2 linked regions of the Homo sapiens genome follow. The protein of the gene in region 1 purifies or fractionates together with the protein of each later gene. This does not show direct contact. Each region holds a gene or a part of one and is shown on either strand. Other genes may lie near its edges.

Evidence for each region.
Region 2: the proteins of DOLPP1 (region 1) and HEPHL1 purify together in Homo sapiens (affinity purification with mass spectrometry; 3 studies listed by BioGRID and IntAct, with this or other methods). This does not show direct contact.

What each region holds. Positions count from the first base shown.
Region 1 is NC_000009.12:129,079,219-129,082,818, reverse strand, and holds the start of DOLPP1 (dolichyldiphosphatase 1), read right to left. Parts: upstream 1,709-3,600; 5' UTR 1,688-1,708; coding exon 1,612-1,687; intron 1-1,611. UniProt on the Homo sapiens protein: Required for efficient N-glycosylation. Necessary for maintaining optimal levels of dolichol-linked oligosaccharides. Hydrolyzes dolichyl pyrophosphate at a very high rate and dolichyl monophosphate at a much lower rate. Does not act on phosphatidate.
Region 2 is NC_000011.10:94,101,354-94,105,127, reverse strand, and holds part of HEPHL1 (ferroxidase HEPHL1 precursor), read right to left. Parts: intron 2,215-3,774; coding exon 2,108-2,214; intron 601-2,107; coding exon 378-600; intron 1-377. UniProt on the Homo sapiens protein: Is a copper-binding glycoprotein with ferroxidase activity. It oxidizes Fe(2+) to Fe(3+) without releasing radical oxygen species. May be involved in the regulation of intracellular iron content.

The sequences.
Region 1 (3,600 bases):
CTCTATCCCCCAAGCCCAGCACAGGGCCTGGCTCTTAACTGGGCTCAAAAACTGTTGAATGAATGAAGTAAGCAAGTGACGGTGTGAAGAGGGGTGTGACGGAGAAGTGCAGGGAACCATGGAAGCATTAATAGGGGACTAGACCTCACCAGATGCTCCAGGCTCAGCCAGGTCCATCACAGCCTGTATCATGCTGCACACAACTGCCTGCCAGGTTCCTTCTGGCTTGTTGGATTGTGAGCACTCCAAGAAGCTACTCTGAGGCCAGGAGGGGAAGCTGTGAAGGTGCAGAGGCCTTAGCAAGTCTTTCCCCACCTCCAGGCTTTGGCTTTCCTCTTATAAAGCAGCTGGTTTTCATAGTGCAGGAATGCAGGGATATTTCAGGCCTGTTAAGCATTCTAAAAACCAGAGCTAGCCCAGGGCCTAGCACTCAGAAGTGTTCAGTGGATATTGACTGAATGAATGAATGGATGAATGAATGGTAGACAGGCAGGCAGGCAGGGCCCAGGACCTGGCAGGGCCATACCACCCCCAGTACAACCCAGAACACCAGCGTCAACGTTCTTTGGCATTCAGTCCTGGTGCCCTCAGCGGACCCAGGTTCTCACATCTCGCAAGACAGCAGCATGAGCAGGCCCTTCCCAGGCAACCAGGGCTCAATGAGGGGCTCCAGCCTTCCCTGGCACTCAACCATCTTACCCAGGGAGGGTCTTGCAAGGTGGGATAACATTAACTGCAGGTATTTACTGAACGCTTACTGCATGCCGGGCACTGTACTCAGCCCTTCTTGTGCCTCCTGCTATTTGATGCTCATACCATCACCAGAAGGTAAGCACTGTAATCAGTCCCACTTTAGAGATGAATTAACTTAAGCAGAGGCAGGCACCTGCACAAGGCCTCAGCCTCAACTGGAGCCCAGATGGGTCTGACCCCCACGCCCAGGCTCTGCGCCACTCTTACTAGACAGCCTCCAGAACGCCGCTAATGGACCTCTCAACTGGAAAGCCCTGCACTTCGAGAGGTGTGTCTGATGGGAAGCAACAGAAGTCAAGTTCCCGGAGGCTGCCCGCCCCCTCATCGGGTCCTCTCTGTTGTGGAATCGTGCCCTGCTCAGGGCGTGGCACCACAAGTACTCAAAAGCCTGGCTTCGGCTTGCACACTCCCAGCAACGGGGAGCTCTTTCTCTTACAAGCAGCCCAAAGCACTGTTCGAAGGAAACAAGACACTCCCTGCACGCTGGAACAGGAGTGCGGCCTCTCTGGGACAGGGGAGGGCGGGGAAGAAGGGCCAAGGTCCAGGCCAGGGATCTTTTCTCGCCTCACACAGATCCTCAACCCATTTCAGCCCACCGGCGCCCCGGGACCCGGGGGAGCGCCCTGGCCGCGCAGCCGCAGAGTGCGCGAGCGAGCGCCTCACAATTTCGCCCAGCTCATCCTCGCACCACTGCGCCTGCGCGGCGCGCGCGCCGGCCGAGCCCCTCCGTGGTTCACTATTTGACAGTTCCCACCCCGGTCCCCCGGCGCCCCCTCCGCGGGCTCGAGCAGGCCGGAGCGCCCGGGACTGAGAGGCCGTCCCTGGGAAGGCGTCCTTGGAGCCGGGACCGCCTTTTACCTGCAGGATATTCGACGTGGGTGAGGGTCACCGGCCGCCATGAAGCGGGGAGCGAGCACTGTCCGTCCGCTGCCATCTTACCCGGAGACCGGGCTTCTTCGAGCAGCCAATGGGGAGCCAGGGGGGCGGTGGTCCTGACCTATCACGCCGGGGAGGCGCCGTGCACCCAATCGGAGGCCAATATAGGTAGCGGCGCAGCCATTCAGCGTGCAGGCCGTGGGGGCTGGCCCGAGCGGCGAATCAGAGAGCGGGGCCCCTGGGAGCCAACGAGCCGCCCCAGCTGGCGCCCAATCTGGGGCGAGCGCAGGTAGGCATCTGGCCAATCAGAGAAGGGGAGGGTTCCAGCACCGAACAGGGAGCATAACAGCCAATCAGAAGGTGAGGCTGCCTCAGCTTGTGGGCAGGGCGGGCCAATCAGGCGCTGGCTTTGGGGGCGTGTTGAACTTTGGTGGGAGCTTTGGTTCGGCTGGGACCTGCGCCCTGAATGAAGGCTTCCCTGGTACCCCCTGCCGATCCGCGGTCTTGGGGACCTGCGCGTCCGATAGCGCGTGCTCGAAGAGGAGAGGCAACCTCAGCTCCAGGGGGTTTGAACCGACCCACTTTCAGTTACGAGTAAACTGAGACCAGAGAGCAGAGGGGGCTTATTTCCCTCTGCCCCATACTGGCCGGCGAAAGGGCAAGTCACACAGAGCAGGCGACCTTTTTGTCAAAAGTGTGTGGGGCGGGGCGCGCAGTAGGCGCCCTAAACGCTGGACTGAACAGAGAAGCTTAATTGATACTTAAGAGTGGAAGCTTAGCTACAGTTAAGGACTCCTTCCTCCTTTCATTCATTTAATAAAGATTTATTGATTCAGTCACGTCTATGCTACTTAATGAGGCGTCTTGGGAGCATTTCAAACAAGAAGTCGGTTTTCCACCTACCCCTCAGTTTTCCCAAGACATTCCTGCGTGAACAGCCACACCTTCCCACCCGCCTTCACCTCTCCTACCCGACTCTGTCTCTGGCTGGATTGGATTACAGTGCAGGTAAGGTGGGCTGGGAGGGCTCAGCCTCTTGTCTCCTGCCGCTAGCATGTGCTGTTTTTGTCTGTTTGTTTGTTTTTTGAGACAGGGTCTTGCTCTGAGGCCCAGGCTGGAGTGCAGTGGAACGATCTTGCTCAGCCTCCTGGGTCCAAGTGATTCTCCTGTCTCAGCCTCCCGAGTAGCTGTGACTACAGGCGCGCACCACCGCATCCGGCTAATTTTTGCATTTTTAGTAGAGACCGGGTCTTACCATGTTGGGCAGGCTGGTCTCGAACTCCTGGCCTCAGGTGATCCACCTGCCTCGGCTCCCAAAATGCTGAGATTACAAGCGTGAGCCGCCATGCCCAGCTAATTTTTTTTTTTTTTTTTTGAGACGGAGTCTCGCTCTGTTGCCCAGGCTGGAGTGCAGTGGCACGCCCGGCTAATTTTCGTACTTTTCGTAGAGACGGGGTTTCACCGTGTTGGTCAGGATGGTCTTGATCTCCTGACCTCGTGATCCGCCCACCTCGGCCTCCCAAAGTGCTGGGATTACAGGTGTGAGCCACCGCCCCTGGCCACCATGTGCTGTTTTGCTGCGTGGGATGTACTGCCTCTCCTGCCCTACTTTGCCCGGCCCAATCTGGTTCAGGTGTCTCCTCGGCTTACAGGTTTCCACAGTCAAGTGAGGGGCCAGTACTGGGCTCTCACGGTTGCATTTCCTGTCCTTTCTCAGCCCTGACCTCACTGGACTGTAATCGGCTCCCTATCCCTCCCAGTCAGCAGCGGCTCTCAGATTCATGGAGTGCTGAGATCAGCCTGTAGAAAACACAGATTCCTGGGTCACAATGGGGCCTGGGTTGATCCAGTAGGTCTGAGTTGGAGCCCAGGTGTCTGCATTCTTATGTGCTCTGGTGGTTCTGATACAGGTGGTTACAGCCACCACTGGAGAAACCCTGGGCAACATGAGGACAGGGCCTGGTACATCCT
Region 2 (3,774 bases), on another chromosome or scaffold:
GTGTTTCATATCCCAGAGACAATTAAACCTGGCCCTTAAATTTAAACAAATAGAAGTTATGGCATATTCTTATAAAAATATGACAATAAATGATGATTTGTTTTTAAAGAATTACTTTACAGTCTTAGAGCTTAGAGATCCCAGGATTCAGAAATACATGTCCCTACAAGTTAGTACAAAGCCTCAATGACTTTGCTGCCAGCCAATCAGTGGCTAGGCTGGTTCAGTCTGAAGGAAAGCATTAGAGGACTTTCTTCAGTCCAGGTGCCCCTGGGAAGGAGGAAAGGCTCAGAGAAGGATGCTGGGAGCCTCCTACATTTACAGGAATTCCTATGAGCTTATCTCAACATAGGCTTCTTTTTAAACTTTGGATATACCATGCATTCTGTTGCTTTCCTCAAAATCATCAGTGCGCTTAAAATCTCGTGGATCTTTGTTGAGATACTTCTTAATATTGTCATCCAGATACCAGGATTCATTCTCATTAAATACCAAAAACAAGAGAGCAAATTCATAATCAACGTCACTTCTTCTTCCCTTTTCATTCAAGACTCCTTTTCGGCATGTAATCAGAGGACCCATCAAACCACTATACGTATCCTGGAAGAAAAAATAAACTGAGTTAAAAGAGCCATTAAGTAATTTAATAATATTTCATTCCACCTGCCACCATTCTAGTGTAGGGTCATAATACCTCACCCTGGACTAGAAATTGATTCTTCTCTCAGCTCTGATTCACCCCACCTCCAGCCCATCCTGTTGACCACCATCACAGTAATCTTTATACTCCCGTATCTAGAAGTCTTCAGTGATTTTCCGTGGCCTACAGAATTAAATACAAACCCTTGCAGGTCTGTGAGCCCTCCATGTGCTCCCCTAATGAAATTTTCTGACTTAGGCTACCCCTTGATTTACTACTGGACCCCATATGATAGCCAAATGGGACTCTCAACATGTCCCAAACACTCCCTCTACTTCCCTATTTTCAGCTGTGCTCATAATGCTCTTTCTTCCTAGACTCTCCCTCCAAAACCTTCTATAGTACTTTAGTTAGCCTGCCACTCCTATAGAATTCACCAGATTCAGAGCTCTATTACAGTTACAAGTGTGGACATATTATTTTCCCACAAAGTTATAAGTTTCTTTAAGACAAGAGTATCTGCATCTCTCATAGTATTTGGTGGGGTCATTTGCACATCACAAGTGCTCAATAAGTATTTGTTGTGATGCATAAATAAATTTGGATTTTCCCATAATTCTCATATGTAAGTTTATTTATTCAAGTGCCTTGTATTTCTATCTCCTGAACTCTAGAACTGTCCAGTATAACTCAAAGACATTAATACAAGCCATCTAATACCTAAGAGGAAGGTTATGATAATCCCTCCCTTTTTTTCTTTAATAGGCAATGCTTACATTTTACATCAAATAACGACTTTAGATTGGACTTTGGTTTATGGCATGTAATTAAAGACTGTGGTTGTTTTACATACACATACCTGGCTCAAATTCAATGTTGAATCTTTGCCTTTTATTTCAAAGTTAGATCATTAATCATTCAAACAATTTTGTAGTTTCAGTTACTATGTTTAGAGTGAACTTTCTTCTCCTGAGCCCTAGTAGCCCTGATAATAATGCATTTAAAATAAACAGATTTCACACATCCAAAACCATACATAAATTGTACTCTAAGTTATATTTATTTTATTGTTGTATATTTACATATCCTCTTTTGCTTCAAACCTTTTATCTTTTTAAGTTCTAAATTTGGTAATTGAAACATTGGGATTTTGTTTTTATTCCCCATACTTTAAGTCAAGGGTCACCAAACTTTTTTTTTTTTTTTTTTTTTTTGGGAAAAAAAAAATCACCAGATAGTAAATATTTTTGACTTTGTGGGCCATATAGTCTCTGTTGCAGCTACTCAAGTCAACCATTGACAATGTAAACGTCCAGCATGTCTAGATTTCGTAAATGGGCCATAGTATGAGACCCTTGCTCTAAATCATTATACGCTTTCACATATACCAACCCAAATTGTGATGACCCAAGTAGTCAACTTTCATCCAAATTATTTTAAGCCTTTTGGTTGCTTTCTCCACCTTACCTTCACAAAGTTTACTGTTGAATAGTAAACCCATGGAATACAATTGGGATCAGAAGGCCCTGGACCGGATCTTTTAGGGATATTCCATCTATAAGTTTTTACTTCTCCTGTAATAAATGAAATGGAAAAAATTTATTAGAATTATCTGTGTTTCAGATGATTTATCTGAAGAAATATAAGCAGGTCTTTATATATTTTCATTAATGTTTATTGCTGGAGAGAATTACTCATTCATTACAAATGTTCTTATTAAACTCCCATCTTGATTTCTACTATTTCAAAATGAAATGGCAGATTTGTCATTTCAGGCTCCAGCCTTCCCTCTAGTTTGCATTTTTCTATTGTCAACTGGTGTGTATTCAGGAAATAAAAACATTTTATACCTCACTGTTTTTCCTCCTTAAATGTTTTATCTCCTTCCCAAGAGCTGTCCTTGAGCACATCTTTGTCATCAAGGACCTCTGCTTTGGCCTCTTATGGGAGTCACCAGGGAGCTTTGTAAGCCCTTGCTGCTCAGGCCTCACCCCAGACAGTGAAATCAGAGAGTCTAGGGTCTAGGACTCTGGTGCCAGTGTTTTTTAAAAGCTTCTCAAGTGGGCAGGTGAGATCTGGTGAGAACCAGAATCAGAGAGACCTAGTTCCAAATCTCAACCCTATGACTTCCTATTTATCCCACATTTGACCAGCTACCTAATGTCACTAACCTTTAGTATCCTTATCTGTAAAGTGGGTTGGTCATCATAGTTTTCTAATTGTTGTGAGGATTAAATGAAATAATGTCATTAAATACACAGGATAATGCTTCATTTTGAAGGCAGTTAATGTGTTAATTTTTATGTTTACTACAGTAGTCCCCCTTTGTCCAGGAGAGATACATTCCAAGACCCCCAGGGGATGCTTGAAACCACAGACAGTGCCATACCTATATATACTATGTGTTTTCCTATACAGACATACCTATAATTAATTTATAAATTAGGCACAGTAAGAGATTGACAATAATTACTAATAATAAAATATGACAATTATAACAGTACACTATAATAAAAGCTATGTGAATGTAGACTCTCACTCTCAAAATATCTTTTTATTGTCTCTAATTGAAGTTATCTCAAAATTTCTTAATATTTTCAGACCAAGATTGATTCAGGTAACTAAAACTAAGGAAAGCAAAACCGTGATAAGGGGGAGCTACTGTAAGAACAGCTATGGAGACAGTAAAAAGATCAGTGGTTGCCAGGGGTTAAGGAAGAGGAAAAAATAAACACCAGAGCACGGAGAATTTTTAGGGCAGTGAAACTATTCTTTATAGGACTAAAATGGTGGATACATGTTGTTGTGCATTTGTCAAAACCCTTAGAGTATACACACCAATACTGAACCCTAATGTAAATTATGGGCTTTAGGGGATAATGATGTATCAATGTAGGTTCATCAATTACAACAAATGTACTACTCTGGTGGGGGATGTTGACAATGGGGTCCCTAATGGAGGTTTCTAATGGAACCCTAGAAATTCCTAAACATTTGGTCATTGGATGAATGATGATCTCATACCAGAGTGACTAGATGATGGCTGAAACACATTGACATTAAGATGAGCTCTTTAAGACACCTCTGAGACCAGAAAAGAGTTGACGCCAATGTTCTTCTTCAAGATGGAGCAG